2 linked regions of the Homo sapiens genome follow. The protein of the gene in region 1 purifies or fractionates together with the protein of each later gene. This does not show direct contact. Each region holds a gene or a part of one and is shown on either strand. Other genes may lie near its edges. The genes, in order: AGK and RAB18.

Region 1 (3,655 bases):
GATATTAATGTTGATACACCTTGGGTATATCAAGCTAAACAAGTCTTAGAGAATAATGAAAATGATCCAGCAGATACAATAGCATGTCATAAGAGAATTAGCTGTCTTTATTTTTATTTGAGAAGGATTAGCATAATATAGAAAGACTATGTATATGAGTTCCTTAAGACATGGCAGGACCCTTGCCTTTTAATACATATTTGAAAATTATAACCATGTTGTTCAAATCCCAAAATACTCTGGGAGGAGATAGGGGCCAAAAAAAGAAAATAAATCCTTTTTCATGGATGGTAGAATTAGGATGTTTCCAGAACCAGCACTGTGCCCATCGTAGTAGGCACTGAATTTTTTTTTGTAAAAGAACATTAGGATAGCTCCTCAAGAGAGGATGTTGTTTTCCATAATGAACTTCTTCTGGTGCTGCTGTGAGACCTCCAACTCCAGTAGGCCACTGATGTGTTTGAGCTGTTCTGAATATTCTCTTCTCCCCAGGGAGCAGGGGGCTCTTTTAGCATTGACAGTGAGGAGTATGAAGCGATGCCTGTGGAGGTGAAACTGCTCCCCAGGAAGCTGCAGTTCTTCTGTGATCCTAGGAAGAGAGAACAGATGCTCACAAGCCCCACCCAGTGAGCAGCAGAAGACAAGCACTCTGAGACCACACTTTAGGCCACCGGTGGGACCAAAAGGGAACAGGTGCCTCAGCCATCCCAACAGTGTCGTCAGAGGGTCCCCAGGGCATTTTCATGGCAAGTACCCCTCTGCCCCCACTCCAGCAGTGCTTCCCAAAGTGTGCTCTGTCACCTGCTTTGCAATCGGCTTCCATTAGCGCATGTTTTATTTTGGTGTGACGGTTGGCCCTCCTAAACACGGACTTTCCTCAGGCTGGTTCAAGACGGAAAAGGACTTTCTTCTGTTTTCTTCCAAAGTGCAACCACAGTGGAGAGCCCACGGTGGGCTTAGCCTGCCTAGGCCCTTCCATTTCTCTTCTTTGACCGTGCTAGGAATTCCAGGAAAGTGCATTCCTGCCCTGGTGACCTTTTCCTATGTCTAGGCTCCTCCACAGGTGCTGCTATTTTGTGAGCTCCGGCTCCTGTTTAGCTTTTATTTCAGTTCTAACCTCAGTCCAGAAACATATGTGAGGTTGTTTCCCTCTTCAGCCACGGCTACAATACCGGAAAATGCTAGTTTTTATTTATTTTTTTAAGTAGTGCTTCCTAAATGGTTTGCATGAGAGCCACCTGGGGTACATGTTGAAAACTTATTTGGGGTCTACCCCAAACCTAATAACCCAAATTTGGGGATGGGGCCCAGGAATATGCATTTTTAAAAAGTCATCTGCCCTTCCCAGGTGATTCTGTAAGTTGTCCCTCAACTGTACTTGGAGAAATCGTGTTTTAAAGCAGTAGTCCACAAAGTATTCTGCTCATGTGCCCCCAAAAGTATTTTGAAAAATCATGTATACCCTCACCCATCTAAGTTGATATCTAAAATTTTATCTAAGTTGGTATCTAAAATTTTTCATGGGAAGTTAAATAGTTGACAAAGTATGTATTTGCTGGTGTCGTGTAAATATTGGTATTTTAAAATAAAAACTGTTACATCACTATTTTAAACATATCCAGTACAATTTAAATATCACAACAATTTGACACCCTTCATTCATTTATAAAAATAAATGAGCTAGTTCTTTAGTAGTTAAACATTTCAAATTGGCTTTTCTCCTTCTGTATTTCCATACCACTTTTCAGCCAAGAATCCTATCATAATGTAATCTATTATGCCCGACATCTTTTAATCATTCACCCCATTACTTCTTGTCAACAAAAAATATAAATGGAAATTTTTTTTTTAGCTCTTGCTTTAAGTGTTTGTTTGTTATCTCAGTCCAGAACCAATATTATCGTAATTAATTATTGGTATATAATGAAAACGGTATTAATTCTTGGATGATTAAAAGTTTTTTTATTAGAATGTTCTTTATCCTAATTAGTTCATTTATCCAAGAATACATGAATGTGATTTACAGCTGAGATGGGGTTCAACCTCAGCTGTATTCCTTGTTTCTGTATAGATGTAAGCACATAAATTCGATGGAATAGAATTACGTTAACAATGTTTTTACAGTTCTTTGGATTCCTTTGGCATTTTGACAAAGATCACAGTGCTCTATCATCAAGAATTATTAATGATGATCTATCAACTAACAAACAACTTGATTAGATTCTCCTTTAGTCTGTTGAAAGCAGAGAACTGAAATCCACCTGATTTACCATGGCTTTGCCAGCCAGTCATTAGCACCATTTACTTTTACTATCGCTGACATTTTCCTTTGTTCAGTGGCCCTGAGGTTCTTACACTCTAGGGGGCAGTGCACCACAGGAAGATAGATCAATGAGGGAGGATTGCGAGGGGGAAGGGGAGGAAGCAGAGCTGGCAGGCCTTAGCTACAGGCTCTCTCTCAGGCAGATCCCTTTTAAGATACATACACCATGCCCACACATCCCATGGAGAGAGACCAATGCTTTAGTAGATTACAGAACAGCTATGAAAAGTCCATGAATGAAGATCACAAAAAGGAAGGCTTTCTTATTTCATACTGTATTCTTCAGGGTGGTAAAATTTCTGCTTTTGGCAAAAACATAACAGACGGTTCCAAACATCAGCATAAAGATCACTCATCCCATACCACCCACAGGTAGGGAGGAAGGATGCTGTAGTATATGAAAACAAAAGTTTTCACCTGAGCTGAGAGCATTTAGCATATCGTGGTTCTGTAACAATATCAAGGACCAGTGCAGAATCTGGCTTTCTTTTCTGATAGGCTACCAGTGTGTGTTTATGTGTGCTCATTTTGTGGTTCTAATCATAATGGTACATATAATTAGGGAAGGATATGGAAGCCACTTTAGAATCTTATTCATTTTTAAATATAAATATGCCTTGTTTCAAACTTTGTTTTCTTGATTCAGGCTTTCTTTCCTGTGAGGGCTTGGTTTCCTTATTGTTGACTGCTTTGTTCTTTGCCTTGTCCTTCCCTATAAAGCCTGCATGGAAGACGTTTAATAGTGCAACTAAAAGAGAGTCAGCTGAGTGAGGCTTGTCAGCCAAAGCTGGAATGCTGAGCTATCTGGAGGAGATCCTAATAACCCAATTTGGGGATGGGGCCCAGGAATCTGCATTGGGAAGTCGGCCACCCTTCCCAGGTGATTGTTTAGTACAAACTTTTTGACAGATTAATTTCACTCAAATGCAAAGATTAATCCCAGCACTTTGGGAGGCCAAGGAAGGTGGATCACCTGAGGTCAGGAGCTCGAGACCAGCCTGGCCAACGTGGTGAAATCCCATCTCTACTAAAAATACAAAAATTAGCTGGGCATGGTGGCATGTGCCTGTAGTCCCAGCTACTCTGGAGGCTGAGGCAGGAGAATCGCTTGAACCCGGGAGGCAGAGGTTGCAGTGAGCCGGGATCGCACCACTCTGCACTCCAGCCTGGGTGACAGAGCAAGACTCCGTCTCAAAAAAAAAAAAAAAAAAAAAAAACCGTAGTTGCTTTCTATTAAGATAGGGTTTTAAATAAAGCTTTTTTCCTTTCCCTCACAGCTGTTTTGCACATATCTGGATGCAGTTATATTTCCTAAGTGCCAGTGCTTCACAT
Region 2 (3,920 bases), on another chromosome or scaffold:
ATACCCTAACTTGTCATCCATGCAATACATTTAGAAAAAGTGCTAACCAACCATGTATTGGGTTGAACTACATGAAATGACAACCAACCATTCTTGACTTCAAAAACACTAATTTCATATGCCTGAACTTAAATGAGAACGATATCTCAAGGAAAAAAGGAGAAAAGAAAAAGAAAGATCACAAGGCTGTGAAATTCCTATTAAGACAACGTTTAACTTTTTAACACTCAAATATGTATGTGCAATAATAGATGATCATGTAAATAATTTTACTCATGCCTTTTACACACACACAGACAAATCATGCTGGTTTGCTAACTCATAGTATTTCATTATTCTATTCCTTGGTATGTGCAAATCCTTCATTCCAGTAGACACAGAGGACATTACATGAGGAACACTATGAAAATGTGTTGTCAAACTGGTGGCTCACGCCTGTAATCCTAGCACTTTGGGAGGCCGAGGTGGGCGGGTCACGAGGTCAAAAGATGGAGACCATCCTGGCCAACATGGTGAAACCCCATCTCTACTAACAGTACAAAAGTTAGCTGGGCATGATAGTGCGCGCCTGTAGTCCCAGCTACTCGGGAGGCTGAAGCAGGAGAATCGCTTGAACCCGGGAGGCGGAGGTTGCAGTGACCCGAGATCGCGCCACTGCACTCCAGCCTGGCAACAGAGCGAGACTCCGTCTCAAAAAATAAATAAATAAATAAGTAAATAATATCAGAATATATTACATAAGCTTTCAAATTCTGAAGAAGCTTTTAAAAAGTAAGACTTTATGAAGTGACTTTTACAAGTTATTTGAGGAGAGCTTTCATTCTAGTTTGTAGAATTAAGGCTATTTCAATTTATGAAATACAAAAAATTATTTGAAAGATACGTGTATCAGAAGGTATAGCTAAAATATGAAACTGATTACAGCCCCTGGAGTGCAAATGTGGTTTAAGGATCAGGACGGCCTTGAACATAACCTACTCATAATCAGATGGCAAGAATGACATCAGCTGGAGAACTCTCTTCCAAGACCTGGATGAAATCACAGCCCTCTAGCAACATCCACCTAGATCCATGTCTTACCTTATACTCAACTCCACTGTCAATATTATTTTCCCCAAGGAAAAAGTAAAAAATGAAAGCACAACACTAATCTTCTGTCTCCACAGGATGTGGCAAAATGAGAAATAACAATTACATTTTATTTTCAAAGGTGGCCCACGGCTGAAGCACTCGGACCTTACACTAAAGCGAAATTTTCCAGCAGTCACAAGATCCAGTTCTTTCACAGCCGACTAATAAAAAAGTAAAAGAATCGACATTAAGCTGCGCCCAAACAGGCCAGGAATGGGACCTAAGGCGTCACGAAACTTCCCGAGGACATTATGTATTTAGAGAAGGCCCCACAGAAACCCTCAAGTGGGAAAGCTATGTCTCCCGGGTCTCGGGGTGGCAGGCAGCCTGAACCCCGAGAGGTTCGAGGCAAGGCGCCCCCGGCCGGATTCGGGCCCAAACCAGCCCGCCACGCCCTGAGCTCCGCGCAGCAAACCTGCCGGCCGAGCGGCGGCCCTCGGAATGGTGTTTTCTCGGCGCTACAGGAGGGAGAGCGACCCAGAGAACTTGGGCCTGGCAAAGGCCGGGAACCAGGCAGGCGCGGGTGGGGAGAGGAAAGCAAACGTCGCGGGAGAGCGCGGCCCAGAGGCCGAGGAGGGCGCGAGCGGAGCCGGCCCGAGCCCGCCGCTGCAGTTTACAGTTCCCGTCGCGGCCCAGGAGACAGCAGCCACCGGGGCAGAAAGAGCCCAGCCACCCTCGTCACGACCCGCACCTCCGCCTCACCTGGACTTGCCCACCCCACTCTCGCCGATGATGAGGATCTTCAGGGTGGTTAGCACGTCCTCGTCCATCCTGACCCCGTTCCGCTCCGAGCCCAGCTGGCCGCCCGGGTGCGCCTCTCAGCCCTTCAGCAGAGTGAGCTGCTGCGCATGCGCGCCGCTCCACGTCTGCCACCTTCCTTTCACACCGGGTGTTCAGGCTGCCGAAGCCCTGGACTCCCCAGTTCCGCCTTGAGGTAGCTCCACGGCTGCGCGACCCAGAATCCCCGGCGTTTTTCCGGACTGCGTGTTCCTCCCCTGCGCAAGCGCAGGTGGGGAGCGCTGTGTGTGACTTTGTTGGCTTCTTCTTGAGGTCTAGCTCCGCCCCAGCCTCAACCTAACCCTCCTTTTGAGTCAGTGGGAGGACTCAGTCAGGAGAATATCAAGCTGTTTTATTTCGGCAGCTGCTCATAACAGCTGCACTGCGGTGGGAAAAGCACTGTGCTTGAAGCAGATTATCTTAAATTTAGGTCCAGCTCTACCTTATAACTGCCTTGTCATACTACCCAGCTTTCTTAGCCTTTCTCCATCTCTGAGAGACACAGTAACACTTCTTAGAACATCTGCTTCTTATTGTTATGAAGGTTAAGTGAGTTAATTTGTGAAGACATGTTGTTAACCAAAGTGCTCTATAAAAGGTGTGATCAGGTATTATCTTGCTGGCTTCCCCTCTGTTATAGTGGAGAGCACCCTCTGCACCCTAATTCATCTTGAAAGGGAGGCGTAGACTTCAGGTAGGTCAGGTGCATTACTTCTGGCGGTGCAACTTCAAGTCAACTCTCCTTCCTCATAAGAACTGCTACACCCATACTGCAGGAAGTGTATGTCTACACCTTGCCTCCTGCATTAAGTTGTAAATCTTAGTGAAGGTACCAAACCTCATTCATAATACTTAGCACAGTGCCTGGTACATGGCAGGCACTCAATAAACCTCAGTTCTCTTGTCTTATTTCCTTATACCTGCAGCTAATGTCATATACAATGGATATTTGATTAAAGACTACATATAAATAAAATTTCAAATGTTAAGAAATTAATTTGTTAAATAGCTGGAAAAGCCCTTTCAAAAGATATCCCAATGGCTTCTCCTCCTTCAGGTCTTCGCTCAAATGTTGCATTCTTAAAGAGGCCTTCCCTGTCCATTCTACTGAAATATGCAAATCCCTCCAGCATTCTCTAGACCTCTTTACATTGTTTTTCTGCATAGGATTTAACCACTCTCTGATACACTATATATTTTACTACTTTATTAGAAGTCTCATGAAGGCAAGGATATTTTGTTTTGTCTACTGGTATGTCTTCAGTATCTAGAGTACTTCATGGCACATAATATGTGCTAAATAAATGTATGCTGAATGAATTAATTGAATGAATGTTGTAGAGTCCATTCCTAACCTTAGAGAATAATGTCAATGAAACAACCTCCACTTCTCATCAGATAGCCCTTGAAACTTCAGTCAAGTCTATCTAGCTTACTTTTCATTATGACAAAAAGATCTTATTTATGAGGTTCACAGTATTGTCAAGCTCTCCTGCCCTGGGGTCCCGAGATCCCTAGAAATCCCTGAAAACCTTTCAGGGGGGTTGCAAGATCAAACTATTTTCATAGTTAATATGTTATTTTTTCATGCACATTCTCTGATGATAATATAATGGAGTTTTCCAGAGGCTATATATTAATAACATGTAATAGCAAAACAGATTGAAGGCAGAACAAGATATGTGAACTTACTGGTTTTCTATGATATTAAGCCAGATATTAAAGGGATTTCCTAAAATGTAAAACATTGCCACTGTTCTCAATTTTGTTCTGTTTTAAAGTAGTTATTTTCATAAACATTTCTATTAACTGGTAATAGGTTTATTATTGTTTTTAAGTAAATTAACATGTTTGAAATTTTCTCAGTTTTAATTTCTAGTAGGATAAATAAGAGATGTAATCTCTTTGGGGTTCTTACAATCAAAAGCTCTTTCAGGTCCTCAATGATTTTTAAGAGTATACTATAATTTGTACAACCAAAAAGTGTGAGAACCATTGCACTGTGCTATTCA

What was found.
Region 2: the proteins of AGK (region 1) and RAB18 purify together in Homo sapiens (affinity purification with mass spectrometry; 2 studies listed by BioGRID and IntAct, with this or other methods). This does not show direct contact.

The regions. Positions count from the first base shown.
Region 1 is NC_000007.14:141,652,295-141,655,949, forward strand, and holds the end of AGK (acylglycerol kinase, mitochondrial isoform 1 precursor), read left to right. Parts: intron 1-492; coding exon 493-630; 3' UTR 631-2,950; downstream 2,951-3,655. UniProt on the Homo sapiens protein: Lipid kinase that can phosphorylate both monoacylglycerol and diacylglycerol to form lysophosphatidic acid (LPA) and phosphatidic acid (PA), respectively. Does not phosphorylate sphingosine. Phosphorylates ceramide.
Region 2 is NC_000010.11:27,502,351-27,506,270, reverse strand, and holds the start of RAB18 (ras-related protein Rab-18), read right to left. Parts: upstream 1,968-3,920; 5' UTR 1,902-1,967; coding exon 1,834-1,901; intron 1,827-1,833; exon of another isoform or gene 1,547-1,826; intron 1,293-1,546; exon of another isoform or gene 1,179-1,292; intron 1-1,178. UniProt on the Homo sapiens protein: The small GTPases Rab are key regulators of intracellular membrane trafficking, from the formation of transport vesicles to their fusion with membranes.